4 linked regions of the Homo sapiens genome follow. The protein of the gene in region 2 interacts with the protein of the main gene of each other region in a pairwise test. Each region holds a gene or a part of one and is shown on either strand. Other genes may lie near its edges.

What was found.
Region 1: the proteins of TFCP2 (region 2) and CA1 interact in binary tests that used the Homo sapiens proteins (3 or more experiments, as listed by UniProt).
Region 3: the proteins of TFCP2 (region 2) and SDCBP interact in binary tests that used the Homo sapiens proteins (3 or more experiments, as listed by UniProt).
Region 4: the proteins of TFCP2 (region 2) and PHF1 interact in binary tests that used the Homo sapiens proteins (3 or more experiments, as listed by UniProt).

What each region holds. Positions count from the first base shown.
Region 1 is NC_000008.11:85,325,931-85,334,535, reverse strand, and holds the end of CA1 (carbonic anhydrase 1), read left to right. Parts: intron 1-915; coding exon 916-1,011; intron 1,012-1,983; coding exon 1,984-2,046; intron 2,047-4,691; coding exon 4,692-4,847; intron 4,848-5,859; coding exon 5,860-5,976; 3' UTR 5,977-6,928; downstream 6,929-8,605. UniProt on the Homo sapiens protein: Catalyzes the reversible hydration of carbon dioxide. Can hydrate cyanamide to urea.
Region 2 is NC_000012.12:51,168,946-51,179,111, reverse strand, and holds the start of TFCP2 (alpha-globin transcription factor CP2), read left to right. Parts: upstream 1-5,976; 5' UTR 5,977-6,689; coding exon 6,690-6,811; intron 6,812-10,166.
Region 3 is NC_000008.11:58,575,865-58,584,561, forward strand, and holds the end of SDCBP (syntenin-1), read left to right. Parts: intron 1-35; coding exon 36-197; intron 198-2,168; coding exon 2,169-2,344; intron 2,345-3,758; coding exon 3,759-3,930; intron 3,931-4,652; coding exon 4,653-4,744; intron 4,745-5,821; coding exon 5,822-5,876; 3' UTR 5,877-6,994; downstream 6,995-8,697. Other genes in the region: NSMAF (protein FAN), read right to left, coding at 8,242-8,336. UniProt on the Homo sapiens protein: Multifunctional adapter protein involved in diverse array of functions including trafficking of transmembrane proteins, neuro and immunomodulation, exosome biogenesis, and tumorigenesis.
Region 4 is NC_000006.12:33,414,014-33,418,187, forward strand, and holds the end of PHF1 (PHD finger protein 1), read left to right. Parts: intron 1-27; coding exon 28-96; intron 97-229; coding exon 230-353; intron 354-463; coding exon 464-531; intron 532-711; coding exon 712-816; intron 817-941; coding exon 942-1,131; intron 1,132-1,201; coding exon of another isoform or gene 1,202-1,221; coding exon 1,222-1,316; intron 1,317-1,576; coding exon 1,577-1,657; intron 1,658-1,796; coding exon 1,797-2,085; 3' UTR 2,086-2,426; downstream 2,427-4,174. Other genes in the region: protein CutA isoform 3 precursor, read right to left, coding at 2,637-2,763, 2,907-2,956, 3,084-3,129, 3,238-3,297, 3,468-3,682, 3,946-3,987. UniProt on the Homo sapiens protein: Polycomb group (PcG) that specifically binds histone H3 trimethylated at 'Lys-36' (H3K36me3) and recruits the PRC2 complex. Involved in DNA damage response and is recruited at double-strand breaks (DSBs).

The sequences.
Region 1 (8,605 bases), on a different chromosome or scaffold from region 2:
TGTTTTGATTTGTGGTGGTTACTTTATATTGGATGATCAGGAAAGAATTATTTAAGGAGTGGCATTTGAGTTCAACCCTAATTCAAGACAAAAGTCTGCCATTTGAAGATCATGGGGAAGGAAATTCCAGAGAAAATTAGAAGCTAATGCAAAGGCTCAAAGTTGTGAACATGTGACGAAGTATAACCTGTAAGATGTGAATGTTGATAGGTGGGGAAAGCAAGAAATGAATGATAGTTGTTGTACTTATTGATTGAGCATTTAAAAACCTTATCCTAAGAAGGTAAAATTAAGCAGGTTTGGCAAGAAGGAAATCTAGAGTTCTATTTTGGCCAGATTAAGTCTGAAACATCTATTAGACATCCATGTAGAGATATCAAGAATATATCAAGAATACATATATACATACTTGGATGTACAAATCTAGAGTTTGCAGAGACGTTAAGCTGGAGATATTTATTTGAGAGATGTTTGGAAAGGGCACGAACGTGCCTGAAAGAATCTGTTCTTGGCCAAGACTCCCAGGAACTCCAGGAACCCTTTCTCATAAATTTACTATAAAGTACCTCATGTGAGAGAAAATTACTTCAATTATTTTCCCAAAAACTAGTTAGTCATATTTCCTGATCTTTTCAAAACAAAGAGAGATACATTTAAAGGAGTAATATTAAATAACAATATCGTAGGAAAGGACATTTTGCTTACTGGTTCCAGGTTTTGTAATCTCTACCTGGCACACAGATAACCCTTCCTACGAGTGAGAATGTAACTCTTCTAATCCACTGGATAAAGGTTCACATAAGTTTTATGTATCTAAGCCAAGATACATCATCATATGGTAACAAGTTAACTTATAACTTATCTTTTTTCATCACACTGGTATAAATAATTAATTAACCATAGTATCATTTTTAGCTTCACGTAGCTCACTGGAATTCTGCAAAGTACTCCAGCCTTGCTGAAGCTGCCTCAAAGGCTGATGGTTTGGCAGTTATTGGTGTTTTGATGAAGGTGAGTTACAGATAATTACACAGCTCTGCTTCCACTGTCTTACCAATTAGACCTCAAAATAGAAGGAAATAAGGCAACATATATTTTAGAATTTCTTATTTTAAAGTTTCCATTTAACCGATGACTACAGGTGAACAAATAGTTCCCTAGTATTTTATTGCTTGGTTTTATCTCTGCTTTTCCCTCTTAAAGAGAGAAATGAGTTTCAGGTGGAGGTGAGATAGAAATGTGTTCACAGGGAAAAAGGAATTTCTATTTTCCAGCTCTTCCAAATTCCCTTTCCTCTAAATTTCCTACATCATAGATTCTGAAATTTATTAATTTAATGTCTCATCAGGAAAGAAATATTATTAAATATTAATAAGGAAACCTGAAATCATAGATTCAGAAATTTATCAATTTAATATCTCATTAGGAAAGAAATAGTAAGAGAATTTTTTCTTACAAAGAATATTCAATTGATTTTTTAAATGGGAGATGTTGCTCAAATCCTCTATAGAAGAATCCCTGAAAAGTTCTATGAAAAAGTTATTATTAAATTGGGTATGCCCGGGTAACCAAGTAACTCTTGAAATTATAGCACTTCTACTTAACCTTTACTGAGCACTTACAATATGCCAAATACTGTAGTAATGAAAACTAATATAACAGACCAAAATAAGAGATTTGTTTTTGTGTCAGTTTTGATAAATTACTAGATTTTGCCCTGTATAACTTTGAACATATTGCCAATAATTAAGTTTAAATCAAACTTTTTGTTTGCTACTTTTATCTGTAGGTACATATTATAAACAATTTATAGAGTACAAAGGCCCTCAAAGACATACAGCTTGAAAAATCTCCCCTTCTAAAGCAGAGAGAAAATACCTTACCTCTTGTCAGTTGTTAATTGAAAAAAAATTCAAAATTTAGCTAAGCAGTGTTCGATTGATAATAATCTTTATCTCATACTTTATTTTCTTAAATCTCCAGGTTGGTGAGGCCAACCCAAAGCTGCAGAAAGTACTTGATGCCCTCCAAGCAATTAAAACCAAGGTAAACACACTAAATAAGTAGTTTAAATCAGAGAACAAGAATTTACAGATCTATGGAAATCATTTAATGAAGTATTAAAACTGGGGAGTAGGAAGGCCATAGTAAAAGCTACCAACTGAAAATCAAGGTGCTACTTCAATACTGCCTACCTCTGAGAAAGTCTCTAATGCAGGGAATTGTTTTGGTTTTCTGTTTTTCATAGTTATGGTTTATTTATTTCAGCAGAATATGGCCTGTAGAAAACCAGATTACATAGCCATTTAAATTTGCTTGAAAAACTATATCTAACAAAATTGTGATTTTCCATTTGATAAATAAAGATATCTCTAGTTTTTTAGCAGTAGAAAAATTCAGAAGTAAAGGGCATTCTTTTGAGATATGGTTGATATACAATCTTTGATAACCATAACTCTTGTCAACTCAAAAAAAATGGATTTTTTGATATATACAAACTTAGCTTTATTGTTTTAAAGGTAAGCAGTTAAACCATAAATCAGAGATTTGTCATGTTTTGCAGCATGGAGAACTGTCATATATTTGTGTAAAATGAATCTGATTTATGCTGATTCTAGAAAAGATTAAACTTAAATGATTGTCTTATAAAGTATAAATGACAGAGATAAAAAATAAGCCCTCAACTCAAGAGTTATCAAAAAAATATGAAAAGAAAATATAAGGAAATAATTAGTGAAGATAAAAGCAGAAAAGAATAAAATAAGAAAGAAAAATGATGGCCGGGTGTGGTGGCTCATGCCTGTAATCACTGCACTTTGGGAGGCCGAGGCGGGTAGATTGCTTGAGGTCAGGAGTTCAAGACCAGCCTGGCCAACATAGTGAAATCCCATCTCTACTAAAAATACAAAAAATTAGCTGGGCGTGGTGGCGCACACATGTAGTCCTAGCTAATCAGGAGATTGAGCCAGGAGAATCGCTTGAACCCAGGAGGTGGAGGTTGCAGTGAGCCGAGATTGTGCCACTGCACTCCAGCCTGGGTAAAAGAGTGAGACTCCATCTTAAATAAATAAATAAATAAATAAATTTTGAAAAGAAAAATGATGGCTAAGTAAGGGGTAAAATTTTATCAATAAATTGAAAAGTTGATTCTTTGGAAGAACAACAAAAAAGTCAGACTTTGGGGAAGCTGGATAAAGAGAAAAAAAGCCGTACATATAAAACATTATTAGAAATAAATAGGTTGTGACTAAAGATATAGAAGAAAATTTTAAGAGACAAAATTTTTTATAACATTATGCCAGTAAATTTGAAAATTTAGATAAAATGGATAATTTTCCAAGAAAATGTGAAATAAGGGAATTGACTCAAAAGGAGTTAGAATACCTAAATAGACTGAGAACCTAAAAGTAAATTTAAACAATAGTCAAAATGTATCTATTAAACAAAAAGACTAGGCCCAGACCACTTCATGGAAAAGGGTTACTCAACTTTTAAGAAACAATCATGCCAGTGTTAACTAAAGTGCCCAGATGAAGGAACAGACAGAAAACTTCCCATCAATTTAATGGAATCTGATACCAAAACCAGGTATGAAAACTACAAAACAGACAAACAAAACAAAAAACATAGGATAAACTTTCTTAGGAATATAGCTAAAGGAAATCCTAAAATTTATTATAACAAATCAAATTCAACAGTGTTTTAAAAGAGTAGTTTCTGAACTAGTAGAGTTTATCCCAAAAATACAAGAATGACTCAATATTAGAAAATCTTAAATTAATTCATTATATTAACTAGTTAAAGGTGAAGAAAACCTCATGATCAACTTGTTAAATGCTTAAAATCATTTGATAAAAGTTAATGCCCTTTCTTTAGGATGAAACAAAATGAAAGAAAACTGTCTGAAAACTTATTGAATTTGATAAAGAATTTACCTAGAAACTTGTATCAACATTTAACTTCATAGTGAAACACTTGAAGCATTTACATTTCAGTCAGGGACAAGACAAAAGTGCCACTGTGACCATCACAATTGAAAATTATAATAAGGGTCCTAGTCAGTGCAACAAAATAATGAAAGAGTACATATTATGATAGATATCGAAAGAGCAAAAACAAAACTATCATTATGTGCAGTTGATATCATCACTAACATCCACCTGAAAACTCCAGAAGAATCATCTAAAATACAGAATGCATAAAAGATTAGCATACAAATATCAGTATATTTCCTACACACCAGTAACAATCAGAAAAGACGATAGGAATAAATAGAATAAAACTGAAACAACCAATATGCATGTCAATAAAGATTTTTGCCATTGAAATAGAATCTGGCATCATTCCTAGAGAAAAAAATAAAAGCTTTATACTAGAAATTAAATATGTTTTAAAGATATAGATTGTAAAAAAGATTTTTGAATCTTTGCTTATCTGCAACCAAATGAAGAAGGAAGACGTCTTGGTCAAAAACTTACATATAACACATTTTTCATCTTTTTTTCTTCTGTTGATATTATTGTTTATATCCACAAACACGCCAGTCATGAAATACTAAATAGTAGAAAAATCAATGACTCTTAGCTAAAATCTCTAAATAATGTATAACAAGATAATATAGCATATATATGTCACATATATTCATATAAGTATTTTATATCATGCTGTAATGATGTATTCTTTTCTTCCAGGGCAAACGAGCCCCATTCACAAATTTTGACCCCTCTACTCTCCTTCCTTCATCCCTGGATTTCTGGACCTACCCTGGCTCTCTGACTCATCCTCCTCTTTATGAGAGTGTAACTTGGATCATCTGTAAGGAGAGCATCAGTGTCAGCTCAGAGCAGGTAGAGTTGTGAATGAATGGGAACTGGGAATGCGTAGCAGGAATATTACTTTAATTGATAGTATCAGTGAGAGAGATTATTATTTCAGTCAGCTTTGTGAGAAGTTCATTTTTCCTCCCAACTTAAAAATATTAATTTGGGGACATAGGTTTATTAAACTATCCAAAAATGCATTATAATACTTTATTTTGCCTTTATGCAGAAAAAAAATGACTCCCGCCACTCTTTCCTCCTTAATAAGGAAAAGTCCAACCTTGTTAAATATCTTCTTAAGCATTTCAGAAATAAAGGAAAAACTGTGACTGGACATTTCAATAAGACTTTGGGGAATTGTGGCTCCCAGCTGGCATACCTTGATAGTTGGCAAAATATTTTTGTTCCTTTTGTGGAGCTTAAACTTTTAAATATTCAACAAAATATCTCATTAACTGTTGTTAATAATGGTGATTATAGTAAGTATCATTCATTGCTCTACCATGTTTATTACGTGCCTTACATATGTTTTATTAGCCAATTCTCATAACAAACCTACAGGACAAGCATTGTAGCCTGTTGCTAACTGACATTTATTGAGCACATGCTATGTGTCAAGTATCATTCTAAGGGCTTTGCATGTATTAACCCATTTAATCTTCACAACAACACAGTGAAGTAAGTACTTATGGAAACTAAGGTACCAAGCTAATAAGTCGCTCGCCCAACGTACCCCAGCTGAAATTAAAAAGTTGATACTTTAACCCAGTCATCAATAATTAAATCAATAAAATAAAGCAAATAATTAAATTTGCTTTATTTAATTGATTTAATTAAATAATTAAATCAATAATTAAAGCAAAATGCCTGGTTCAAAGAAATGAATGTAAAGGATTTGGGGCTTTCTCTCTTCCTATTAGTGATATTACTGCAATTTCTAACTCAGTTTTCTAAATATCAGTGCGTTAGTAATCCTGTAAATAAAACGCTTTATGTAACTTTAAAAACTTTTTATTTTTAAAATATTTTATCCTTCTAGCTGGCACAATTCCGCAGCCTTCTATCAAATGTTGAAGGTGATAACGCTGTCCCCATGCAGCACAACAACCGCCCAACCCAACCTCTGAAGGGCAGAACAGTGAGAGCTTCATTTTGATGATTCTGAGAAGAAACTTGTCCTTCCTCAAGAACACAGCCCTGCTTCTGACATAATCCAGTAAAATAATAATTTTTAAGAAATAAATTTATTTCAATATTAGCAAGACAGCATGCCTTCAAATCAATCTGTAAAACTAAGAAACTTAAATTTTAGTTCTTACTGCTTAATTCAAATAATAATTAGTAAGCTAGCAAATAGTAATCTGTAAGCATAAGCTTATGCTTAAATTCAAGTTTAGTTTGAGGAATTCTTTAAAATTACAACTAAGTGATTTGTATGTCTATTTTTTTCAGTTTATTTGAACCAATAAAATAATTTTATCTCTTTCTTTCTGTTGTGCATTCAGTTTCTAAAACCATTAAGTTTCTACTCCATTTACATTCAAAAATCTTAAATACTTTACTTGCAAGAGTATTTTGCTTCAAATACAACAACCTAAGAGCAGCTGGAGATGAAATATTGGGAAATTCATTTGCTTACTCCTGAAGACAAAAATATAGCTGAGATGACCACTGGATTTAATATCGTTATGCTGGCCCAACATTGCTACCATTTGTGTTGTCTGTGATCAAAATGATTATCTTTTATATAGGAAGATGACGCTTCTGGATATTGCTTTCACTTCTTCTCCCCACGTTAGCAAGGACAATGCTTCTCTGCCATTATTACAACTAGTTAGTTTGCATGGAGAATCTTTACTTTAAAATTGGAAGAAAAGTCACAAGTGAATGGTTTATAAAAATGCTAAAGAAGTCATTCTTGCTTAGAATCATATAGAAACATCATGCAATCTTTTAGTCAGATGTGCGCTTCACCTTATGCTATTTTTATCTTTAATTGACACACAATAATTGTACATGTTTATGGAGTATAGTGTGGTGTTTTCTGTTTGTTTGTTTGTTTTTTGAGACAAGGTCTCACTCTGCCAGTCAGGGTGGAGTGCGATGGTGTGATCATAGCTCACTGCAGCCTCAAACCCCTTGGCTCAAGGGATCCTCCCACCTCAGCCTCTTGAGTAACTGGGACTATAGATGCCTGTCACCATGCCAGCCTAATTTTTAAATTTTTTTTTGTAGAGACATGGTCTCTCTATGTTGCCCAGGCTAGCAGTGTGATATTTTGATTCATGTATACAATGTGTAATGATCAAATCAGGGTAATTAGCATATCCATTACCTTAAACATTTATCATTTTTTTGTGCTGAGAATATTCAAAATCCTTTCCTCTAGCTATTTAAAAATATACAATAAATTATTGTTCATTATAGTCACCCTATTATGCTGTAAAACACTAGAACTTATTCCTCCTATTTTGCCGAAGCCATATCTACATCCAGAATTCTACAAATCCTGTGTCCAGTGTTTAATCTTGTGATTTACTTTAGTTATCTCATTTGAAGTAGTAAAGACCAAGCCCAATTGTTCATTTCTGTAAGTTTTAGTAAAATTACTTAAAAAACATTAAGCAGATTCTTCACTGCTCTAATAAGCCTTTCTGCAAAGGCTGTGTTTGTTTTACACCTAAAAACCATACTAAGAGACTTCTTTTGAAATATTTGACTTGGGGCCTAGAATTTAGGTGAATCCTCTTTATTAAAATGTAATTTGTTTTTATTTTATTTTTAATCAAAATTAATTTGTTTTTCTACACAAAGTTGGGAAATTTATAATTTATTAATTGAAAAAATAAATACAAATATAATGGAGTCAAGTAACACATTAGCTCTGCCCCCACGTGTAATCTCTAAATATAAAATATTTTATTTGCAAAGGAATCCAACTGTGTATGATACTCTATATTTGCCAAATATTGAGAAAGCCTGCAACACTTATACCTGGCCTAGGATCCTATTACTTCACATGAGTTGTATTGATAGGATTTTAATTATAAAGTTATCAAAGGCTCTCAAAAGGTGGGAGCCAAAGAAAGAGGGATATGAGCTTAAGTTGAGAAATACATTTGCAAAAGATGTTCATTTGAAAACATTTTCTGAAAAGAAATTAAACAATTTAGAAATAAGTTTCACAGGAAGGATCTGAAAAACACTTGACCTGATGGTCCATATATTTTTTAAGAAGGTTAAAATGGATTCCAGCATTTAGATATAAGTCTGTAAGTCTTATTATGGACAGGGCAAAGATGTGACAAAAAAATACATGATGACCATCAAACATTATCCCTAAGGCAAATGCCAAATGGGTAGCATGTTTCCCCTTACTGCCTCTGCCAGAATTTCATATATTTGGCAGAACTCATGAGATTCATTATGAATTTCTCTGAAGTAGCCAATAAAAACAGCTGTTGAGAGGAGGTATGTAAACTAGGCATTGGATCATCTGAGAGTGTAACTCATATGTGTCACTGACTCACCCTCCTCTTGTATGTCCTCATCCTTTGTCAACTTACATAAAGAATTTAAACATCCTGCAAGGATTCTCTGGCTTTTCCATGATGTTTGGCAGCTGACCTTCTTTATGCCACATCTATTGGCATCTAGAATGATAAGCCAGCTGGTGAGGCCCAGCGTGGGCTCTAGGATAAAGAGTGCTCTTACTGCATGCTGTTTTCTGCCTTTTCACTTGCCCTTCAGAAATACCCTGCTGTACCGTTATCACTATGGCACCC
Region 2 (10,166 bases):
TGGGTGTGGTGGCGGGCACATGTAGTCCCAGCTACTCGGGAGGCTGAGGCAGGAGAATGGCGTGAACCCGGGAGGCGGAGCTTGCAGTGAGCCAAGATTGCACCACTGCACTCCAGCCTGGGCGACAGAGTGAGACTCTGTCTCAAAAAAAAAAAAAAAAAAAAAAAAAGAACTGTTGAAGCTATCTTTTTTTCTTTTTCTTTTTATCTGTTTTTTTTTTTTGAGACAGAGTATCGCTCCTCTTGTTATCCAGGCAGAAGTGCAATGGTGTGATCTCAGCTCATTGCAACCTCTGCGTCCTGGGTTTAAGCTATTCTCCTGCCTCAGCCTCCTGAGTAGCTGGGATTACAGCCGCATTCCACCACACCCGGCTAATTTTGTATTTTTAATAGAGATGGGGTTTCTCCATGTTGGTCAGGCTGGTCTCAAACTCCCGATCTCAGGTGATCTGCCCTCCTTGGCCTCCCAAAGTGCTGGGATTACAGGTGTGAGCCACCACGCCTAGCCTGAAGCTATTTTCTTTTCTTTTCTTTTCTTTTTTTTGAGACGGAGTCTCACTCTGTCTTCCAGGCTGGAGTGCAGTGGCCTGATCTTGGCTCACTGTGACCTCTGCCTGCTGGGTTCAAGAGATTCTCCTGCCTCAGCCTCCCAAGTAGCTGGGATTATAGGCACGCACCACCACTCCCAGCTAAGTTTTGTATTTTTAGTAGAGACTGGGTTTCTCCATGTTGGTCAGGCTGGTGTGAAACTCCTGACCTCATGTGATCCGCCCACCTCAGCCTCCCAAAGTGCTGGGATTACAGGTGTGAGCCACGGTGCCTGGCCACGCTGAAGCTATTTTCTAGTTCCTTCCCTCACCTATTCCCCTGCCTCTCCTTAGATGTGGCCATCACTATAATTGTATTTATTTCATTTCTTTTGAAAGGACTTATGTAAAGTTGACCCTTAAACAATGTGAGGGTGATCCCCACACAGTTGAAGGTTCAAGTGTAACTTCTGACTCACCTAAAACTTTATTACTAACAGCCTACTGTTGATCCGAAAGCTTACTGATAACATAGTCAATGGACATATATTTTATGTTTTATGTATTATATATTGTATTCTTACAATAAAGTAGGCTAGAGAAAAGAAAATATTTTAAAAATCACAAGGAAGAGGAAATATACTTACTATTCATTAAATGGAAATGGATCATCAAAAAGGTCTTTCCTCCTCATCTTCACATTGAGTAGGCTGAAGAGGAGGAGGAAGAGGAGGGGTTGGTCTTAATCTCTCAGGAGTGTCAGAGGTGAAAGACAATCCATGAATATTAGAAGATATCAACAAACAACAAAAATGAAAAATTAAAAAAAAAAAGAAAACCCACAAATAAGTAGACCTGTGCAGTTCAAACCTGTGCTGTTGAAAGGTCAACTGCATACTGTCCTAAATGATAATTGCTTAATTTTACTGGCTTTTGAGCTTTATAAGGTGATATTACACAGTATGAGGACTTCTGAATTTCCCCCTCAATTCTAAGATTGATTTATTCATGCAGTTCAGTATAGCTTTATTCATTTTCACTGCTCAATAATATTATATTCCAGTCTAATTTATCCATTCTTTTGCTGGTGGAGAATTTTTTTATTCCATTTTGTTACCAAAAAGAGTGCTGCCATCAACATTCTCATACAAGTCTCCTGGTATGTATGTAGAAGAGTTTCTCTAGGGTATATATGTAGAAAGGAGTTGCTGAATCACAAAATAATTTTCAGGATAATTTTTAAAGAGTTCTGCTTGATCCTGACCACTCTGTCCTGAGTCTCAGCTTCCTCATATTGAAAAACAAAACAAAAACTTCTATGAAGATTAAATGATATGATGTATTTGATTTATTTATTTTTAATAGAGACAGTGTCTTGCTCTGTTGTCCAGGCTGGGTGTAAAGGCCCAATCATGGCTCACTGTAGCCTCGAACTCCTGGGCTCAAACCATCCTCCCACCTCAGCCTCCTGAGTAGCTGGGACTACAGGTGCACACCACCATGCCTAATTTTTAAATTTCTTGTAGAGAAGGGGGTCTCACTATATTGCCTAGGCTGATCTTTAACTCCTGGGCTCAAGTGATCCTCCTGCCTCAGCCTCCCAAAATGCTGAGATTACAGGTATGAACCATGGTGCCAGGCCAAGACAATGTATTTTAAAGTGCTATTAAGGCTGGACACGGTGGCTGACACAGTGGCTCATACCTGTAATTCCAGCACTTTGAGAGGCAGAGGCAGGCAGATCTCATGAGGTCAGGAGTTCAAGACCAGCCTGGCCAACATGGAAACCCCGTCTCAACTAAAAATATAAAAATTAGCCAGGCATGGTGGCGTGTGCCTGTAGTCCCAGCTACTCGGGAGGCTGAGGCAGGAAAATTGCTTGAACCCAGAAGGCGGAGGTTGCAGTGAGCCGAGATCGCGTCACTACACTGCAGCCTGGGCGACAGAGGGAGACTCCGTCTCATAAATGAATAAATAAATAAATAAATAAATAAATAAATGCTATTAAAACCATAACAGTCTCGGTACCGTGGCTCATGCCACGGTAATCCCAGTACTTTGGGGGGCTGAGGTGGGAGGATCGCTTGAGCCCAGGAGTTTGACACTCACTTGGGCAACATAGTAAGATTCCATTTCTACTAAAAATAAAAAATTAGCTGAGTGTCGTGGTGTATGCCTTTAGTCCCAGCTACTCGGAAGGCTTAGGTAGGAGAATTGCTTGAGCCTGGGAGGTGCAAGATGCAATGAGCTGTGATCATGCCACTGCATTCCAGCCTGGGCAACAGAGTGAGACCCTGTCTCAAAAACACCAAAACCAAAACTTAAAAAAAGAAAACATGGCCGGGCACTGTGGCTCATGCCTGTAATCCCAGTACTTTGGGAGACCGAGGCGCGCAGATCAAGAGATCAAGACCATCCTGGCCAACATGGTGAAACCCTGTCTCTACTAAAAATACAAAAATTAGCTGGGCGTGATGGCATGTGCCTGTAGTCCCAGCTACTTGGGAGGCCGAGGCATAAGAATCGCTTGAACCCAGGAGGCAGAGGTTGCAGATCGCACCACTGACTACAGCCTGGCAACACAGCGCGACTCAGTCTCAAAGGGCATAGTGGTGTGCACCTGTAGTCCCAGCTACTTGGGAGGCAGAGGCAAGAGGATTGCTTGAGCCCAGGAGTTTAAGGTTACAGTGAGCTATGATCAGGCCACTGCACTCCAGTCTGGGTGACAGAGGGAGACCCTGTCTCTAAAAGAAACAAAAAAATCCCAAGCCCATAACATACTATACAATGTAAATTAATGTTATTAAAATAGGATAACAAAATCAACCCAATCTTAACAGAGAAGCAGAAGTGTACTACCAGTGGGAGACTGGAGATAACATTTATTGAATCATTACTATTTTTGCGGCATTTTGGTACCTTATTTAATACTCACAACAGGCTGGGCGCGGTGGCTCACGCTTGTAATCCCAGCATTTTGGGAGGCCGAGGCGGGCGGATCACGAGGTCAGGAGATGGAGACCACGGTGAAACCCCATCTCTACTAAAAATATTAAAAAAATTAGCTGGGCATGGTGGCGGGCGCCTGTAATCCCAGCTACTCGGAGAGGCTGAGGCAGGAGAATGGTGTGAACCCGGGAGGCGGAGCTTGCAGTGAGCTGAGATCGCGCCACTGCACTCCAGCACTCCAGCCTGGGTGACAGAGCGAGACTCCGTCTCAAAAAAAAAATACTCACAACAATTTTAGGGGGAGGTATTATTTTCACTAATTTATGCATTAAAATACTGAGGCTCAGAGATGTAAAGTTACTTGCCTGAGATTACACAGCTAGAGATGGAGCTGATGGTCAAACAAGGCATGGCTCTATCTAAGAGAGGTTTAAAAATACCCTAAGTACAATGCTGGTTTACAAAGGATTTTGACCACCGGGCACGGTGGCTCACGCCTGTAATCCCAGCACTTTGGGAGGCTGCGCCAGGTGGATCATTTGAGGTCAGTTCAGAACCAGCCTGGCCAACATGGTGAAACCCCGTCGCTACTAAAAATACAAAAATTAGCCGGGTGTGGTGGTACACACCTGTAATCCCAGCTACTCGGGAGGCTGAGGCAGGAGAATTGCTTGAACCTGGGAGATGGAGGTTGCAGTGAGCTGAGATTGCGCCACTGCACTCCAGCCTGTTCGAGAGACCAAGACTCTATCTCAAAAACAAAAACAAAACCCAAAAACTTTGAGCCCTCAGATCTCCATGTGACATCTCTCTTTTTGTCTATGAGCCCAGGACCCATTCCTTTATCCACAGTCACACATTTTGAGATAGAACTGGCTCATGGGAAGAAAAGATGGCTTAAAGAGATACTGAATGTCTCCAGAATGAGCTAAGACTTTGATCCTAGGGCTTACCAAGGTAAGACGGCAGGTTTAAGCCTGGAGCCTTCAGAGAGATGCCTGTGGCTGAAACACCCCATACCAGCACAACATGTTGCCATCTTCATGTCAACTTCTCTCTTTTTCTTGGTTCTCTTATTCCTTTTTCATTCCTTTTTAAATTCAATAAACATGTTTAAAAGTCCTGTTGAAAGCAGGAACTATAGTAGGAGATATTTAGAACGCAAGCCTGAAAAAGACCTATTCCTTATTCTTTAGATCAATCTAGTGAGAGAGGCAGATATATACAAAAGTATAAGTCAAGGCAGATTTTAAAAAATTCAGCAACGGAATACAACAATGAACCAAGACTTTCACATAAAGGCAATGTCTTGTAACGAAAAATGCCAGGCTTTGGAATCAGCTCTGAAGCTGGCATGTCAATTTAGCTCCGGCCAATTTAAGGGCTTAGCCTTGGTTTCTTACTGATAAAATAAGAGTCATTAAATTTAGCTTTATAATTCTAATTCCAAGATCGCTTTGAGGACTACTCATAGTGTAATAAAGTTCCTAGCAGTAGTTGATACTTAATAAACAATGGCCATTATTACTCAATCCTCAAAGGAGGAAGGTGGAGCAGATAAAGTTACTCCCACTCCCGTTTACAAACGAGGAAGCTAAATCTGTGACATTAAGCAATTGTTCTGAAGACACCAAAGTAGCAAATGAAGACGCCAGCCTAAACTCTGATTTTCAGATCTTTTAAATTCCAACACCCCATACCAGCACAACAACCTTTTAAAAACCACTGTTTTTTTTTTTTTTTTTTTTTTTTTTTTTTTTTTTTTTGAGACGGAGTTTCACTTTTGTTGCCCAGGCTGGAGTGCAATGGCGCGATCTCGGCTCACTGCAACCTCCGCCTCCTGGGTTCAAGAGATTCTCCTGCCTCAGCCTCCCGAGTAGCTGGGATTACAGGCCCGCGCCACCACACCTAGCTAATTTTTGTATTTTTAGTAGAGACGGGGTTTCTCCATGTTGGTCAGGCTGGTCTTGAACTCCCGACCTCAGGTGATCCGCCCGCCTCGGCCTCCCAAAGTGCTGGGATTACAGGCGTGAGCCACCGCGCCCGGCCTAAAAACCACATTTTTACTGATCTCATGCTTTTCTGTTCAAATGCATTAGAGAGGATGCCGAAGATAAAATGAATATACAGGGAAGTGGGACTTATGCAGGGTCTTGACCTCCGGAGAGGTGAGTTTAAGGAGACAGGAGTATGGGCAGGAGCAAGCGCACACACGTAAGGAGCGTTTGGGAAGCCGTCAAGAGTCCGCCAGGGGTGGAGTGGGTTCATAAGGCTAGAAGAAGGGCTCCTTCCATGGCTCAGGGTGACGACTTGATGGGTAGCGAATACCAGAACTCTGGTAACTACACGGATACACGTTTAAACCCGGACACTTGCACGCCGGGTCCTCCCCGTGATCGCCCAGCCCATCTCGGGGGCAGAGCCGTGGCGCAGCCCGCCTATCATCGCTGCCGAGACTGACGCGGTCTCTTCTTTATAGGCGAACGACAGCGTGACGTCATGTTCGCCGGGCAGGCGAGGAAAGAGGACGCCATGATTGGTTGGCGCTGGGGCGGCGGACGGTGGAAGGGCCTGGCGAGTCTAGGTTTTACGCCTGTGCTGGACTTTCTCCTTCCATGTTTCCAGGCCGTGGGGGGCTACAGAGGGCGAGAAGTCGGCTCAGCGGAAACCTGGATTTGGTTCTAAGCCGTGGGGTTGAGAAGGGGTGACCGGAAGTGATCGTGGGACTGACCGGAAGCGAGGCCTGGAGGGGAAAGAGAGAGCGAGACCTGGGAGGGAGGGGGCCTCCAGCAGAAAGGGGCGGGGGAAAAGGTGCAAAAGCAGCGTGGGAGCGCCGGGCTGGCTTCCTGCGGCTGCTGCTGGTCTGACTGGGAAGCAGCAAGCCACCACTACGAACTCTCAAGAGGAGTGGGAGTGCGGGAGTCCAGAGCTGCCTCTGGGAAGTCTGCAGTAGTTGAGCAAAGGGGTCCTCACGTTCCTGAGAGCTGGGCAGGGGGGATTTTGGAACCTGGGGCAGCCAAGAACGAGCAGCCAAGGGTACGGGAGATTAGTTGTGCACAGAGCAGTGCTGGTCGGGCTTGGGGGTGGCTGGTGGGCACTGCGTGGGAAACCTTGGTTTGTAGTTTTCTTGGTTTGCGTTACTCCTGTTGGGTAGAATTACCCTCCGCGCCTTTGTACAAGACACGGTGTCTCCTGGGGCAAGGAAGGAGCCAGGATGGCCTGGGCTCTGAAGCTGCCTCTGGCCGACGAAGTGATTGAATCCGGGTTGGTGCAGGACTTTGATGCTAGCCTGTCCGGGATCGGCCAGGAACTGGGTGCTGGTGCCTATAGCATGAGGTGAGTGAGATTTTCCCAGACCCTACACCTTCTGAATAACAAAGGCGGATAGACACTAAGAAAAGGGGTTGAGTGGGAAGGAGGTGTATAGAGTTTTAAAAAGCTGTTTACGATTGGGGAAAAGGGACTTGTTCTTTTGTCGCTTTGAGTAGTTAGTGTTGTGGAAGAAATGGAAAAAGCGATTGTAGGCGATATGAAGCCTGTGCAGAATCAGTGGAAGAAGGAAGTGGTCCCTGATTAGTAACCAGATGAATGTTGAGAGGCTTTTGTGCCAATGTGGGAGACTTGGGGACTGATGGTGTATGTGTGGGTAAGTCTGACGTTGTGTGAAGAAGGGTTACATATAGCATAGGAATGGTATCTAGGAAGTTGGGAAATTGGGAGCTGGTGCTTAATGATGAATATTGGTTCGTTTCTTGTTGGAAAGATATGGAAGTCCTTGATGAAGAAGTCCGTACAGCTCTATCTTACCACTAGCTTGCTTTAAGACTTTACTTAATTCTGGGATTTCTGACTTTTAAAACATAAGCTGTGAAATGAAAAAGTGACGAAGAAAACTTAAGATGCTTCTGGATCTTTATGTATCAAGCCAGTTGTTGATAACAGATGAAAAATCTCCTTTCGGCCGGGTGCGGTGGCTCACGCCTGTAATCCCAGCGCTTTGGGAGGCTGAGGCGGGCGGATCACTTGAGCTCAGGAGTTCGAGACCATCGTGGCCAACGTGGTGAAACCCCGTCTCTACTAAAAATACAAAAATTAGCCGGGTGTGGTGGCGCGGGCCTGTAATCCCAGCCACTCGGGAGGCTGAGGCAGGAGAATCGCTTGAACCCGGGAGGCGGAGGTTGCAGTGAGCAGAGATGGTGTCATTGCACTCCAGCCTGGGCAACAAAGTGAGACTCCATTTGAAAAACAAAGCAAAACAAAACAAAAACTCCTTTGAAAGCAACATTATTGCCTATATAACTTGTTGCATGCATTGGCTGCTTCATTCCTCCAGTATAGTTTATTTCATTTATAGATGTGTAAGAATCCTGTATGGAAATGTTGAAACAGCTGCATCTTAGGGGTAGATGGACTATAATTGGGTTTCCTAATGCATTATTAAGACTTAATCTAAATAAGTGAGTCAAGAGACTAGAACTTAACATTTTCATTGGGTTTATGAGTTCATAGGGGAAAGATGCTTTTTAGGGGGAAAGTAGATGCATTTTTCATTCTGATAATGAGATCTTTTAAGAGTTATATAAAGTTCCTTTATTCCTGCCAATTCAAAGTAGACTTACCTCACTGAAGTAAAATTATGAGTTAGAATTTAATACTTCAGGCCGGGCACGGTGGCTCATGCCTGTAATCCCAGCACTTTGGTAGGCTGAGGTGGGCGGATCACGAGGTCAGGAGTTCGAGAACAGCCTGGCCAACATGGTGAAACCCCGTCTCTACTAAAAATTCAAAAAATTAGACGGGTGTGGTGGCGCACGCCTGTAATCCCAGCTACTTGGGAGGCTGAGGCAGGAGAATTGCTTGAACCGGGAGGCGGAGGTTGCAGTGAGCAGAGATCGCATCATTGCACTCCAGCTTAGGCAACAAGAGTAAAACTCCGTCTCAAAAAAAAAAAGGGGGAGAGAATTTAATACTTCAGCATCTTCAGGAATCTTTACTTAGAATAATAAAGACTATTATTCTAAATAATAATCATGCCTGTAATCCCAGCACTTTGGGGGGTGGAGACTGGAGGATCTCTTGAAGCCAAGGAGTTCAAGACCCGCTCTCCACAAATAAATCAACAAATAAATTACCCAGGCCTGGTGGCATGTTCCTGTAGCCCCAGCTACTCAGGAGACTGAGGTGGGAGGATTGCTTGAGCCCAGGAGTTTGAGTCTGCAGTGAGTTGTGATTGCACCACTGTACTCCAGCCTGGTGACAGAGTGAGACCTCATCTCTTAAAATTAAAAAAAAAGAAAGATTTTAAAAATTAAGAAAAATTGGAAAAAAATACTATCGTTATATAAATATTTTAGTGATTTTCAGGGAAACTTGAGTTCCATATGTTCTATCATGCAGTGTTCTTAGTCATGAGAAATTTAACTTTGGTTTTACCTATCCTTGTTTATGTAAGTCTGAGCATAAAAACAGAGGTTAATTTGGTCTGAAAGTAAGTGCCCTGACCCTGAACTTACACATGAGCGTCTGACATAATATTTGACAATTTTTTATGCTGTTACTTGTGTAAAGATATTCACAGCAAAAAGTTTGATTTTGTTTAGGTTACCAGAGGTTAGGCTGGAAATAATTAAATATAACTGTACTCATTATAAAAATAGTTAACATCACCAGCAAACATTTGTTAATCTACTAGGTGCAATACCATATGCTCTTGATACTATGCCATCTTACATTTAATTAAGAGTTCTTTACAAATCATACTCTGTGTTTTTCACAGACATTAGAATGGCTTGCATATTTACACATTTAGTTTTTTCAACATCAAAATCAAATGCACAAGTTTCAAACATCACTTTGAGTTCTTGAGAGTATAGTGTGCCAACATTTTAAGTACTTTCTTCTTTTCTTTTCTTTTTGAGACGGGTCCTGTTCTGTCACTCAGGCTGGGGTGCAGTGGCACCATCTCGGCTCAGTAGAACTTCCATCTCCCGGGCTCAAGTGATCCTCTCACTTCAGCCTTCCGAGTAGCTGAGACTATAGGCATATAACACTACGCCTGGCTTTTTTGTTTTTTTCATCCTTTTTTTCATGTGTTAGGTACTTGTCACTATTCTCTTGACTTTTTTTTTTTCTTTTTGAGATGGAGTCTCGCTCTGTTGCCCAGGCTGGAATTCAGTGGTGTGATCTTAGCTCACTGCAACCTCTGTCTCCCGGGTTCAAGCGATTCTCCTGCCTCAGCCTCCCGAGTAGCTGGCACTACAGGCGCACGCCATCATGCCCGGCTAATTTTTGTAATTTTAGTAGAGATGGGGTTTCACCATATTGGCCAGGCTGGTCTTGAACTCCTGACCTCAGGTGATCCACCCGTCTCAGCCTCCCAAAGTGCTGGGGGATTACAGGCGTGAGCCACTGCACCCAGCTCTCTTGACTTATACACATTTAATCTATTCTATTAATTTGTGTTAATTAGATATTGGTCTTCAAATTTTAGTATTCATAAGAGTCACCTGGACAGCTTATTAAAAATACACTTGGGGACCAGGTGTGGTGGCTCACGCCTGTAATCCAAACACTTTGGGAGACTGAGGTGGGTGGATCCCCTGAGGTCAGGAGTTTGAGACCAGCCTGGCCAACGTGGTGAAACCCTGTCTCTACCAACAATACAAAAATTAGTTGGGCGTGGTGGTGCATG
Region 3 (8,697 bases), on a different chromosome or scaffold from region 2:
TCTAGATATTGACACATTGTATATGGTTTTGTCAGCAGTTGGTAGCAAGACCTTCCAGTATAAACTATATGGTGGCTCCTGTAACTGGTAATGATGTTGGAATTCGTAGAGCAGAAATTAAGCAAGGGATTCGTGAAGTCATTTTGTGTAAGGATCAAGATGGAAAAATTGGACTCAGGCTTAAATCAATAGATAATGTAAGTATTTTAAATACCTATTTGAATTTGTCTAAATCTCTTACATAATAAGTGATTAATGTTAAAATAATTTGAAATGGAAATGCTTTAATTATAATAGTGCATCTGTAGTTGAGAATATTTTAAATCTACTAACTTAAATGTTTTCAATTGGGGATGTTCTATTTTGCAGAGGCATAGTTGGGACTTCTGACCACATTACTTTGAAAGATGTTTCTTTTCTGAATATTCTAACTGGAATACATTTCACTGGCCTACATATATTATAGTTTGTATAATAGAATTGTGGCAATTAAATAGAGCAGATGTGAAGGTTAAGAAAAAACTTTCCAATGAGAGTCAATGTCAGTGTGCCTTTTTTTTTTTTTTTTTGAGACGGAGTCTCGTTCTGTCGCCAGGCTGCAGTGCAGTGGTGTGATCTTGACTCACTGCAACCTCTGCCTCCCGGATGTGTGTGCATTTTTAAACCAAATGATCAGTATTTAACTGGTGAGATGGTTTTTGCAGATTTGTTATTAACATCCTTCACATTTGAATTTAATATGTCATTTTCTGAGTAAAAAAAGATGGAATATTCTTTCTAATTAGGGCAGCCTTTACTTTATAATTACCTCTCACCTTAACATACTGAAGATATGAAACAGGGTTACTCTCTGAGGAACCATTTATAATTGTGAAGGACATGTTGAGTCTTTACCCCAATTTATAGTTTTAGCCATTACCTTATTGGATTCGGTTTCAGTCATACATCTCTAGCTTAGTGCATCCAGCCTTTCCACATAGAAAATTATAAGTGTGGTGCACTGCTGTAAATGGAGGAGGCTGATCTTGGCAGGAGGCCCCCGCCCTGCCTGCCCACCCAGGGGGCTGAGGCCATCGATGATGGCCTTGCTCACTTGTATGTCACTCAAAATACATCTGCGTGCTTAGTTGGGATGCTCTGACTTTGCTGCCCTTTCTCCAGAATCTTCAGGGAATAGAGTATACTGCTGCTCCTTCCGCCAGGATTGCTCTTGTGTTCTTTCCTCTGTCCTAAAGAGAAAAGATACTTTTCATAGGCCCCTTGGCCCCACTGTAGGTAATAGTTGCAGTGGATTTGTTCACTTGGCCAAAGGGCATTTGTTCATTTATGGGGTGCTACCTAGTTCTTGCTTATCATTCTACAATGTAACAGATGTGTGATAGAAATATGTGACCTAGCTTAGGATTGTAGAAGTAGATGCACTTATATTTTACCAGGCTTATTCTTCTTTTATACTTACCTATTTATATTTTGTTCAACTTCTGATTGAGATTTTACATAAGTAAAAATATCCATGTGAGTGTAGTTATTGGTTAACAGTATTTGAGTTTTCTGTATTTATTTCATTGTGTGTTCTTTATAAGCCTGTGCATGTGGATTTAATATGCCCATCTTTTTAGTCTAACAAATAAACTTTAATCTTACTTGATTATACACAATTTAGCAAATGGGTAAAGGAATGCTTCAGCTCAAAAGGTAGAATTATGACCTTAAACTGTCATTTATTAAGCTGTAAAAGAACTCATCAAACTTTCTAACATGTGACTCGCTTTTCCCCTAAATATGATTATGTACTGATAATTTGGTATTCTATCAGACTCAGACGCTTGCATTTATTAAAGTTGTCCTACTGTATTTTCCTTAGTTTTGTATTCCAAGTTGAAGGGGGGGATTGTGGTTGGTCAGGTGGGTCATGATTTGGTATAGAAATTGCCATTGAAATCTCACTTTTTTGCCTTATTCTTTGGAGTTGCTGTCTTGATAAATTTTTCAGTTTCTTTTGAGGTGATAACTTAATATACTCATATAGTTTTTCCTTTTTTTCTTTTTCTTTCTTTTTTGTCACTGGGGTAGAGTTTTCAACATAAACAGTTGTTTCCTAATTTTCCAGCGTTTAAAACCGTATCATAGTAGTGGTAAATGACAAAAATTATTTTCTTATTATCTAGGGTATATTTGTTCAGCTAGTCCAGGCTAATTCTCCAGCCTCATTGGTTGGTCTGAGATTTGGGGACCAAGTACTTCAGATCAATGGTGAAAACTGTGCAGGATGGAGCTCTGATAAAGCGCACAAGGTGCTCAAACAGGCTTTTGGAGAGAAGATTACCATGACCATTCGTGACAGGTAAGCTGTTACTAAACAGCTCAAATGAAAATTCAATACTAGTTTTCCATTTTTTTGGGCTTTCAGAGTTTGTGAGTATATTATTTTGTTGCAGAAAATGATCAAATGTTATTGATGAGCCTTATAGTCTTGCAGTTGTGTGGTGCAGATTTTTCTTACATTGTTTTTAAAGCATTCTGATACGATACCTTATTTCAGAGTTTATAGGACAAATCTCTCTAGAAAATAGAAAACGTATGTTGGAGAAGTAACTGAGTTGCAGGGCATCTCTGGGCTCACTTTCCAACTTACTGCTTAGATACATCCAGCCTAGGGTGTTCACACACAGTGGTCCCTCATTGTGAGGGTCAGAGCCCATGCAGACTTCCAAGTAGTATGGGAGTTCTGAAAACCGTATCAAGACTTTTGGGTAGTTATGAAGCAGTAGTTTTCAAGAACATGGAATATTCTATTTAGCAGCTCATTCATTTAGAACTTAAACATTTAGCACATGAAATAGGGGCCTCCATTTATTTTCTTGTCTACTCCATACCCAATTAAGGGTAGACGTATATTGCATTGTTACAGTAAGCTTTGAGTTTTTGTTCCTTCTCAGTGAAACTTCTGTTTTATCTTTGTGTTTCCAGTTTCTCATTCAGTTTAGGTATTTCGTAAATGTTTCAGATGAATGTCCTTTTTACTTTCTATCTAAGCAGAGTTTCAAAGAGTAAGTTGTACTAACAGGAAGAAATGCCTCTTCTGAATTTAATAATGTAAACACAAGTTGATCCTAAAACCCTTATGATAACATGATAACAGAGTTTATAGAGAATCAAGCAAATGTGACTGCTATAACAACTCTAGAGGGACAGCTGGATGCCTTTTAATAATAGCTGCATGCCTCCCTTTCCAAAGGGGCTTGAGGAACTTAAGTCTTACTGCTGCTCTAGTTTTTCTTTTCAAAGATAGCAATGTATAAAATTTTCAAAATCAAGATGTGAGAAATATTTTAAAGGTTTTAAATAAAAGAAATAGTCCTAAAAATGATTTGGCTCTAGAAAATACCAAAAGTTAATAAAAAATAAAAATTATCTTTACCACTGTGATTTAGTTAAAAAGCCTATGTCATTCTTAATGCTGTAAAGTCTAATTATAAAAGAAAAACATATTGATAAAACCATATAAAGCAGTTGTCTTTTATACTTAAAGAAGGAAATGTTGATTAGTAAATCAGTCAAACCATAATGAATAAACTTAAAAAAAACTTTTACACAAAGATGTTCCGTGAATGTATAAAATCAGAGCCATAAGTTGCTCTTATTAGAAACAGTGTTTATTATAAAAGTATCCAATATGGCAACATTTATGCTATATGAAATCCATTAAAATGTTTAGCTTAGAATTAAGTTTTTAATTGAACCAATTATGTTTGTAGGCCCTTTGAACGGACGATTACCATGCATAAGGATAGCACTGGACATGTTGGTTTTATCTTTAAAAATGGAAAAATAACATCCATAGTGAAAGATAGCTCTGCAGCCAGAAATGGTCTTCTCACGGAACATAACATCTGTGAAATCAATGGACAGAATGTCATTGGATTGAAGGTAAGGAACAGACTTTGTGCCATGTTCTGCTGCAGTTTTAGAAAATGTCTGTCTTTTGACTGTATTTAGGTGGCGCTGTTTTCATATTGACTTAGGTGGGAGATGGGGAACGTGGGGCCTGAACTCTTGGTCTGGCCAGTCACCGGAATTATTTGGGCTGTCATCTAGAACTACAGTTCCTATAACAAGTGGGCTGGAATAAATGATCTCAGAAGTACCTCACACTAGAATTCTGTGGAAATATGGGCAACAAAGATTTAGAATATGAATAGTGGCCCAGCATTTCTCAATCCAGGAATATAAGGAAATGAATAATAGTTTTGGTTCATATTAATACTTTATTTTTATAGTTTTTCTCCTCCACAAATTCCTAAATAAGTCTGTCTTAAGGTCAAAAAGTTTTAAGCATGACCTCCTCATTTCATAGAATTTGATTTAGAATACACAGTTAATAAGAGGAGATGGTAATATTGTATATGGGGAAAATTATCTAATATTCAGAAAGGAAAAGTTTTTTTTTGGTTAAAATATTCAACTCAGTTTACTTAAGCAATTTGGTTACTAGCTGTAAAATAGTGTACAATTAAACTTGGTAAGAAATACTAGAAAAAATTAGAAATACCAAGACATATATTTTGTATTTCTTTACCAAGACTGGCATAGTTTTGTATTTATTAAATAAAGCCTCTGTGGAATTAATTTTTAATATGTGTTTTTATCAGGACTCTCAAATTGCAGACATACTGTCAACATCTGGGACTGTAGTTACTATTACAATCATGCCTGCTTTTATCTTTGAACATATTATTAAGCGGTAAGTAAACAATTCCTCAACTTAATGCATATGGTCATGTGACTTAATATAAGCACTATACTTTAATTCTCAGCCCTTTGGTTCTTTTACCCAAGGAATGGATACTGGTGTTTTATCTAGAAATTTGAAGTAAGTTATTTAAATCAGAGGGTTGGTAAGGATGAGCTCTTACAACTTCCCAAGTACGGAATAAAATTCACATATACTTTCCTCAGTTTTTATAATGCCTGGTAGAAAAAAGGTATGCAAGGAGAAGTGGGCATGCTTTCAGCTTTCAATTTGCAGTGCAATTGACTGCAGTTGCACTGCCTACCACCCCTCTGCTCAGTATAAATATAGTTGTGGTGGTTCGTAATGGAGAATTCTTGCTGGTGGAATGCTAAGAGTAAGTTTCCCTTCTCTCCAGAATCTCAAGAGGCAGATAGACAAGTGTGGTGTGTTGGTGCTATCTGTGCTCAGGAACTGAGGATTAGAAAGCCAAGTGATCAGAACTGAAAAGAGGCAACAAGGTTCCTTCTATAGAGCTTTTCATATCCTAGCATCTACCATAGCTGTTTTTGTCAAGCCAGCTTGGAATCCTTTCAGAAGCTCTATTATGCATGTGAAAATGAGATTTAAAAGATTCATAAACATAACCATTGTAATGAAATTTTTGTGTTGGCTTCTGGATAGAATGCACCTAGCTACCCTTGGAGGGGGTAAAAAGGAGTTATTGTCATGACTAATTTTTCTAGGGTTCTCTTTTCTTAAATCACTGATGGATCCCTCTACCCCAACTCATCACAGCCTTGTCATTTTCTTTCTGTTTTTTAAAAATCACCATGTTTAATGCACAGGAATTCATTTGTATCCTAACTTCTCTAGCCAAATACAGATAGTCTTTCCCACTGAGTGTCTGTCAACAACTAGATTACCAGAGATGCTTCTGGACTCATTTAAAAGATCTTTCCCTTCTCTCCATTCATATTTGATGCTAACAGGTGCTAAATTGGAATTGGGAATTTTCTTGGATTAATGTAGCATTTTGAAAAACAAAAACCAGAATCTCGGTATATAATAAAAGTACCTCTCTTGTAGGATGGCACCAAGCATTATGAAAAGCCTAATGGACCACACCATTCCTGAGGTTTAAAATTCACGGCACCATGGAAATGTAGCTGAACGTCTCCAGTTTCCTTCTTTGGCAACTTCTGTATTATGCACGTGAAGCCTTCCCGGAGCCAGCGAGCATATGCTGCATGAGGACCTTTCTATCTTACATTATGGCTGGGAATCTTACTCTTTCATCTGATACCTTGTTCAGATTTCAAAATAGTTGTAGCCTTATCCTGGTTTTACAGATGTGAAACTTTCAAGAGATTTACTGACTTTCCTAGAATAGTTTCTCTACTGGAAACCTGATGCTTTTATAAGCCATTGTGATTAGGATGACTGTTACAGGCTTAGCTTTGTGTGAAAACCAGTCACCTTTCTCCTAGGTAATGAGTAGTGCTGTTCATATTACTTTAGTTCTATAGCATACTTGCATCTTTAACATGCTATCATAGTACATTTAGAATGATTGCCTTTGATTTTTTTTTTAAATTCTGTGTGTGTGTGTGTAAAATGCCAATTAAGAACACTGGTTTCATTCCATGTAAGCATTAAACAGTGTATGTAGGTTTCAAGAGATTGTGATGATTCTTAAATTTTAACTACCTTCACTTAATATGCTTGAACTGTCGCCTTAACTATGTTAAGCATCTAGACTAAAAGCCAAAATATAATTATTGCTGCCTTTCTAAAAACCCAAAATGTAGTTCTCTATTAACCTGAAATGTACACTAGCCCAGAACAGTTTAATGGTACTTACTGAGCTATAGCATAGCTGCTTAGTTGTTTTTGAGATTTTTTAGTCAACACATAATGGAAACTTCTTTCTTCTAAAAGTTGCCAGTGCCACTTTTAAGAAGTGAATCACTATATGTGATGTAAAAGTTATTACACTAAACAGGATAAACTTTTGACTCCCCTTTTGTTCATTTGTGGATTAAGTGGTATAATACTTAATTTTGGCATTTGACTCTTAAGATTATGTAACCTAGCTACTTTGGGATGGTCTTAGAATATTTTTCTGATAACTTGTTCCTTTTCCTGACTCCTCCTTGCAAACAAAATGATAGTTGACACTTTATCCTGATTTTTTTCTTCTTTTTGGTTTATGTCTATTCTAATTAAATATGTATAAATAAAGTTACATTTTAGTCTGTCTATTACTGCATCATTTGCTTTCACCAAACTTATGCATGATCTAGAAGACAGGCAGGTGAAATTCACTTTCAGCTGTGGGAGACATCATCTCCCAGAACAAGCTGACATTCAGGGGCCCTAAGAACAGCTCTCAGTGCTGAGACTGAGTGTCAGGAAAATTGCTTCCAGCTGGGAACCCCAGATTACCAGGGCCAAAAGAAGAGCTGGTTCACACCTGCCATGCAGCAGGAACTCATTGAGGCTACTGATTGTCCCTAGCAATACCTGAGACCAGGTAATATTTAATAACACTGAAACTGACTTTGGAAATTCTATTAGTGTGGTCTGACTCAAGTTTTTTCTCCTATGTCATACTACCTGCAAGATACAACAATGTTTTTAAAGAGTATAGAAAAAATAATAAGTCACACACTTACCATGGTTCAGAGGTTGAATATAAAAGGAAATCTGCTACTGCTATACAGCTTACCTTGTTTGAAATTTAGAAGAGAAAAAAATATTTGATTATCTACCTGAGTCTGAAGATAATTTCAAAATAATGGAATTACATTCATATCACTAAATATGGTTTTCTAGAAGATGATTCTAGACTTGTGGTCTTAAAAACACTAGTCTTTTAAGTTACTTAAATAAAGTGAAAACAGCTTTCTTTAGAGAAAAATATTTTTAATGTAGAAAAGATGAATAGCTGTAATGAAATACAAACCGTTCCTATACACAGTAAACTTACTAAGAACTGCTAATCCTTCTCCAGGTTCTTAGAATCTGGGTACAGCATTATAGAAAGTAACCACGCTATGAAAACACACACCCAAAACCCGATGGGTGGCAATTGTGATAGATTAGGAAGACAAAACAGATTCAGAAGTAGCAGAGAATACTGCACATTTTCTTGGAAAATTTCTTAATTGTTCAGTGCTTTCTGACAAGTTTCCCCAGCCCAATTTATCTCTTAGCTATTCTCTGCTACTTAGTCCTGTCTTCTGACAATCATCATACGGGGACGATCATCTGCCTTACAGTGTAACATGTTTTTCCTAACACAGCCGCATTTTATCTGCCCTAAGAGAATAGCAACTAATGGCTTTCAATGAAGTCACCATGATTTAGAAAGTTTAAAACCACAAATTTTCCATGTGGTAAAACTTCTAATTACTAACATTGCACATTCACCAGTCCGTTTAAAAGTTTGGTTTAAAAATGCATTAAATAGAGTTCAATTTAATATTCAGGAGAGGAAAAGGCACTTAATACTGCAATTTCCAGAATATAATTTGTCTGTCTTCCCCTCCTGTGATGATACTGCTACACTGTTCATTCATCCATATACATGTCACAGCACCTGAGAGAAAGACATTTTGGTTAGTTAGGAAGTTGACCAGGAGGCACCCAAAGATAAACTTTACTCTGATGCTTACTCTTGCTTTGCTATTCATTTACTAAACAAGTGAAGTAAGTTCTATTTTTTCTTGTCTGCTTCCTATAATAAAACCCTTGAATAAATTAAAAATAATTGCTTGGTACAAAGATCTTGTGAGGAATACTAAACCATTTAAGTGTAAATCTAAAGCTAAAACAACTGGGAATTATGGATATAGAACAATGCAAATAAATACCTTGGCGAAGTAAGTACAATACAGGTATAACATGACAAAAGTTGGGAGACAGATGTGAAGGAAAAGGTGGGGTTATTGGTGTAAGGT
Region 4 (4,174 bases), on a different chromosome or scaffold from region 2:
TGTTTGCTCCCTCTTGCCCATGTCCAGGTTCTATGAATTTGAATGCTGTGTGTGTCGCGGGGGCCCTGAGAAAGTCCGGAGACTACAGCTTCGCTGGTGAGCTGGATTGGGCATGACCTCAGTGTAACTCCACACCACAGTATTTCACTCTATATGCCCCAACCTCCCACCTCAGGACTCCCCTGGCTCTTAAAATGCCTCTGTGGTCTTGAAAACTTTGTTTTTCCAGGGTGGATGTGGCCCATCTTGTCCTGTATCACCTCAGTGTTTGCTGTAAGAAGAAATACTTTGATTTTGATCGTGAGATCCTCCCCTTCACTTCTGAGAATTGGGACAGTTTGCTCCTGGGGGAGGTAAGGGGTAGTGCAGTTTTGGGGGTTGGGATGGGACAGGGAGATGTAGCGGAAAGGGGAAGAGAAGAAATCACTGCTCCCCTGGCCCCATTTTTCTTCATTTCTCCCAGCTTTCAGACACCCCCAAAGGAGAACGTTCTTCCAGGCTCCTCTCTGCTCTTAACAGCCACAAGGACCGGTGAGTTGGAGGGAAGAGGAGGCAAGGATGAGGCTCGGAAAGAGATGGAGAGTGGAAGCCTGGAAGGGGAGGGGCTTGCAACCCACCTGGAAGACTGTGACTGAAAAGGATTGAGGAATGGCGTAAGGAGGAACCGTTTTTTACAGCACTGACCCTATATCATTTCTCTTCTTGCCCCAGTTTCATTTCAGGGAGAGAGATTAAGAAGAGGAAATGTTTGTTTGGTCTCCATGCTCGGATGCCTCCCCCTGTGGAGCCCCCTACTGGAGATGGAGCACTCACCAGGTCACTGGTCCAGGGGGGATGGGGGAAATTCTCAGGGTGTTAGTCCTGGGGGGTATATGTATAGAGATGGGGAGGTCTTGGGGGTGTCCGGGAGGGGGCTGGGGGGATAAGGAGGCCTCTTACAGCTTCCCTTCAGGGCAGGGCCCTGGGGGAGGGGTCTCACGTCCCCTGGGGAAGCGCCGGAGGCCGGAGCCAGAGCCCCTGAGGAGGAGGCAGAAGGGGAAAGTGGAGGAGCTGGGGCCACCCTCAGCAGTGCGCAATCAGCCCGAGCCCCAGGAGCAGAGGGAGCGGGCTCATCTGCAGAGGGCACTGCAGGTACTGGAGCAGGGGGAACCCGATGGAGCAAATGGTGGGGTGTGGGAAGGAGTCAAGGATTATCTCTCAGTCCTTTGCCCCCTCTTCTAGGCCTCAGTGTCTCCACCATCCCCCAGCCCTAACCAGAGTTACCAGGGCAGCAGCGGCTACAACTTCCGGCCCACAGATGCCCGCTGCCTGCCCAGGTCAGTGCTCCTCTGCCCCTCCCCCACAAAATATGCTCCCAATTATTCACATCTTCTGGACTTTATCACCCAGAATTCTTTTCCCTCTCCCCCTTGGCTACCCACTTCTTGGCCTAGACCGACTTCTAGAACTAGTGTCTGGTAGCCAGTATTCTGGGGAAGGGAGTCCCTTGGGGGTAGTGTTTGAGCTCTGCACTTCCCAGGGGGAGAAGGTCCTGTTCCCCTGCTTCAGGTCCTGACTTTCCCCACTCCAACCCCAGCAGCCCCATCCGGATGTTTGCTTCCTTCCACCCTTCTGCCAGCACCGCAGGGACCTCTGGGGACAGTGGACCCCCAGACAGGTGAGATTCTGTCTTCTATTACCAGTGATGCTCTTCTTCCCCTCTATGTGCTCAAGGCTCTTAGTCTCTAACACTGTTTCTCTGATTCACATGTGCTCTCCATTTCTGCCCATTTCTTACAATTGCCTTCTCTCCCTAGGTCACCCCTGGAACTTCACATTGGTTTCCCCACAGACATCCCTAAAAGTGCCCCCCACTCGATGACTGCCTCATCTTCCTCAGTTTCATCCCCATCCCCAGGTCTTCCTAGACGCTCAGCACCCCCTTCTCCCCTGTGCCGTAGTTTGTCTCCTGGGACTGGGGGAGGAGTCCGAGGTGGGGTTGGTTACCTGTCCCGAGGGGACCCTGTCCGGGTCCTTGCTCGGAGAGTACGGCCTGATGGCTCTGTGCAGTACCTGGTTGAGTGGGGAGGAGGGGGCATCTTCTGAACAGCCTGCCTCTGCCCAGCTCCCCATTCACACACACCGGCACTTTCATACCCTGACCTCTGACCTCACCTACAGCTGGGATGTACCTGGAGAGATAGGGGGTAGTTCTCCCTACTGCCCAGGCTGGAATCCAAGAGTGGGGAGTGGGGAAGAGGCCCTCTTCTCTACCCTCCTTCATGATTCCTGACCCCTCCCATCCTTCCCATTTCCTTTGATGTTATTTTGTTACAGCTTTTTAAATATTTTTTAAAATTATTTAACCCCTGGGGGCAGAGACTGAGGAGGGAGGATGATAAGGGATCCCGGACTCTGTATGATTGAAATAAAGAGAAATAAACAAATCTAGCAGCTCTGAGTCATTCTGAAAGATGTAGAGAATACAGGGACTAGAAGCACTTATATTCTCCCAACAAATTTGCATACATGACAAAAAACAGGCAAAAGGCAGAGAGACCCAAAGACGGGATTTATTGGGGGCCCAGTCATCACCTGGAAGTCAGAAGGCGTTGAAGTATCGCGGGGATCTTCATGATGAGCAGGAACAGGGCTCATCATGGCAGGACTGTGATAGAGTCAGAAACTGACTCTGTGACCTGGCGCACCCACTGCAGGTACGGAAAGTTCCCCTGTTCCACAGGCAATGCAATTACCTCGGCCACTTCGTAAGGGTGCACAGAACTACAAAATAGGTGGGTGGGGGAAGGGGATCACTCAAAGATTTACCCAAAAGAACCCACTCCCTTACACGCAAGCCCTAGACTGCCCAGCAAGTCACACCCACACAGTACACACCCTCACCCCATCCATCTCAAAGTTCTCACCGAACAAAATCTGTCAAAGCTGGGACCAAGGAACTTTGGGTTTTAATCATCTAAGGGACAAAGATAAACATGGTTGAATCAAGGAGTGGGATTGAGTTCAGTTTCTCAGAAGAGGGGTAAGGGCTAAAGGGGTCAGGGATTGGGGATATTTTGTTGGGTGGGGGAAATGTTTCTCACCATCAGCACCTCACTGTCTTCCTCGATCTTCCCTTTCCACTCATAGCTGAAAGGTCAGAGGGGGAGAGTTGTGGGGAGCAAAGAATTTCCCCCAGGAAAGAGGTTCCCAGTCAGCTCCTACAGTTAGGTTAACCCCCCAACTCCTATGACTCACATGGATGTAATCTGAGGGATGAGGTTGACGCAGGCTGCTAGGCGCTTCTCCACCACGGCCCTGGAGTGAAGAGACAGTCCCATTCAGAGTACCCCATAACCCCAGTTTTTGTACTGGCAGCCCAGAGACAGGCTTCCAGAGCTGGAGAAAGGAGAAAGCAGCACTCTTCTGCCCCACCCCCAACTGTCCCTTCATGATCATCCTTTCTCGCTGCACATCGAGGTCCCTACCTGGCGATCTCCTTGGCGACCTTCTCGTTGGGGCAAGTAACAAAGGCTGCAGAGACCGAGCCCGGAACGTAGCCAGAGCCGGAATCCGAGGCCGGCGAGGGCTGGGTCGGAGGGCTTCCAGAGGCCATGGTCAGCAAGACTCGGGGTAGCAACAAAAGGCGGGAGGCCACAGGCAGCAGCGCCGGCATCCAAACAAAAGACAGGAGCAGAGAGGCCTGAGAGCAGGAGGCGAATTCGATCTCTCCTCACAAACAGCCCAGGAAATTACACCCGGGGAAGCCTTCGCTTAGATCCTCAGGCTCTGCCCTCCCTCTGATGCACCCCCGAAGAATGCCCCTGAAGGTGAGAGAGAAACTTGGAAAATAAAGCAAAAGCTCATTTCACTCACACCTCAGGGGGCCAACCTCTGGGATTTAGGGTGCGGGTAGCGGTCGAGGCTTCGAGGACCGGAAGGGGCGGGGCGGGGCCGGTCACTCACCACTCCGCCGAGCAGGACCGCGGGAGCCCGCCCCCCACTCATGCGGCCTACGCTGGTACAGGAGAGTTGATCTCAAAGGCCACACGTCACACGGAGAAACAACCCCAGGAAGAGCGGCCTCTTCTTACCTGGGTGGCAGCCACGTGATTAGAAAACAGCGCGCACCATGTGACAGTAGAAGAAGGACCACCTGCGCCTCCAGAGCCAGCCAATCCCGACCCTATCATGG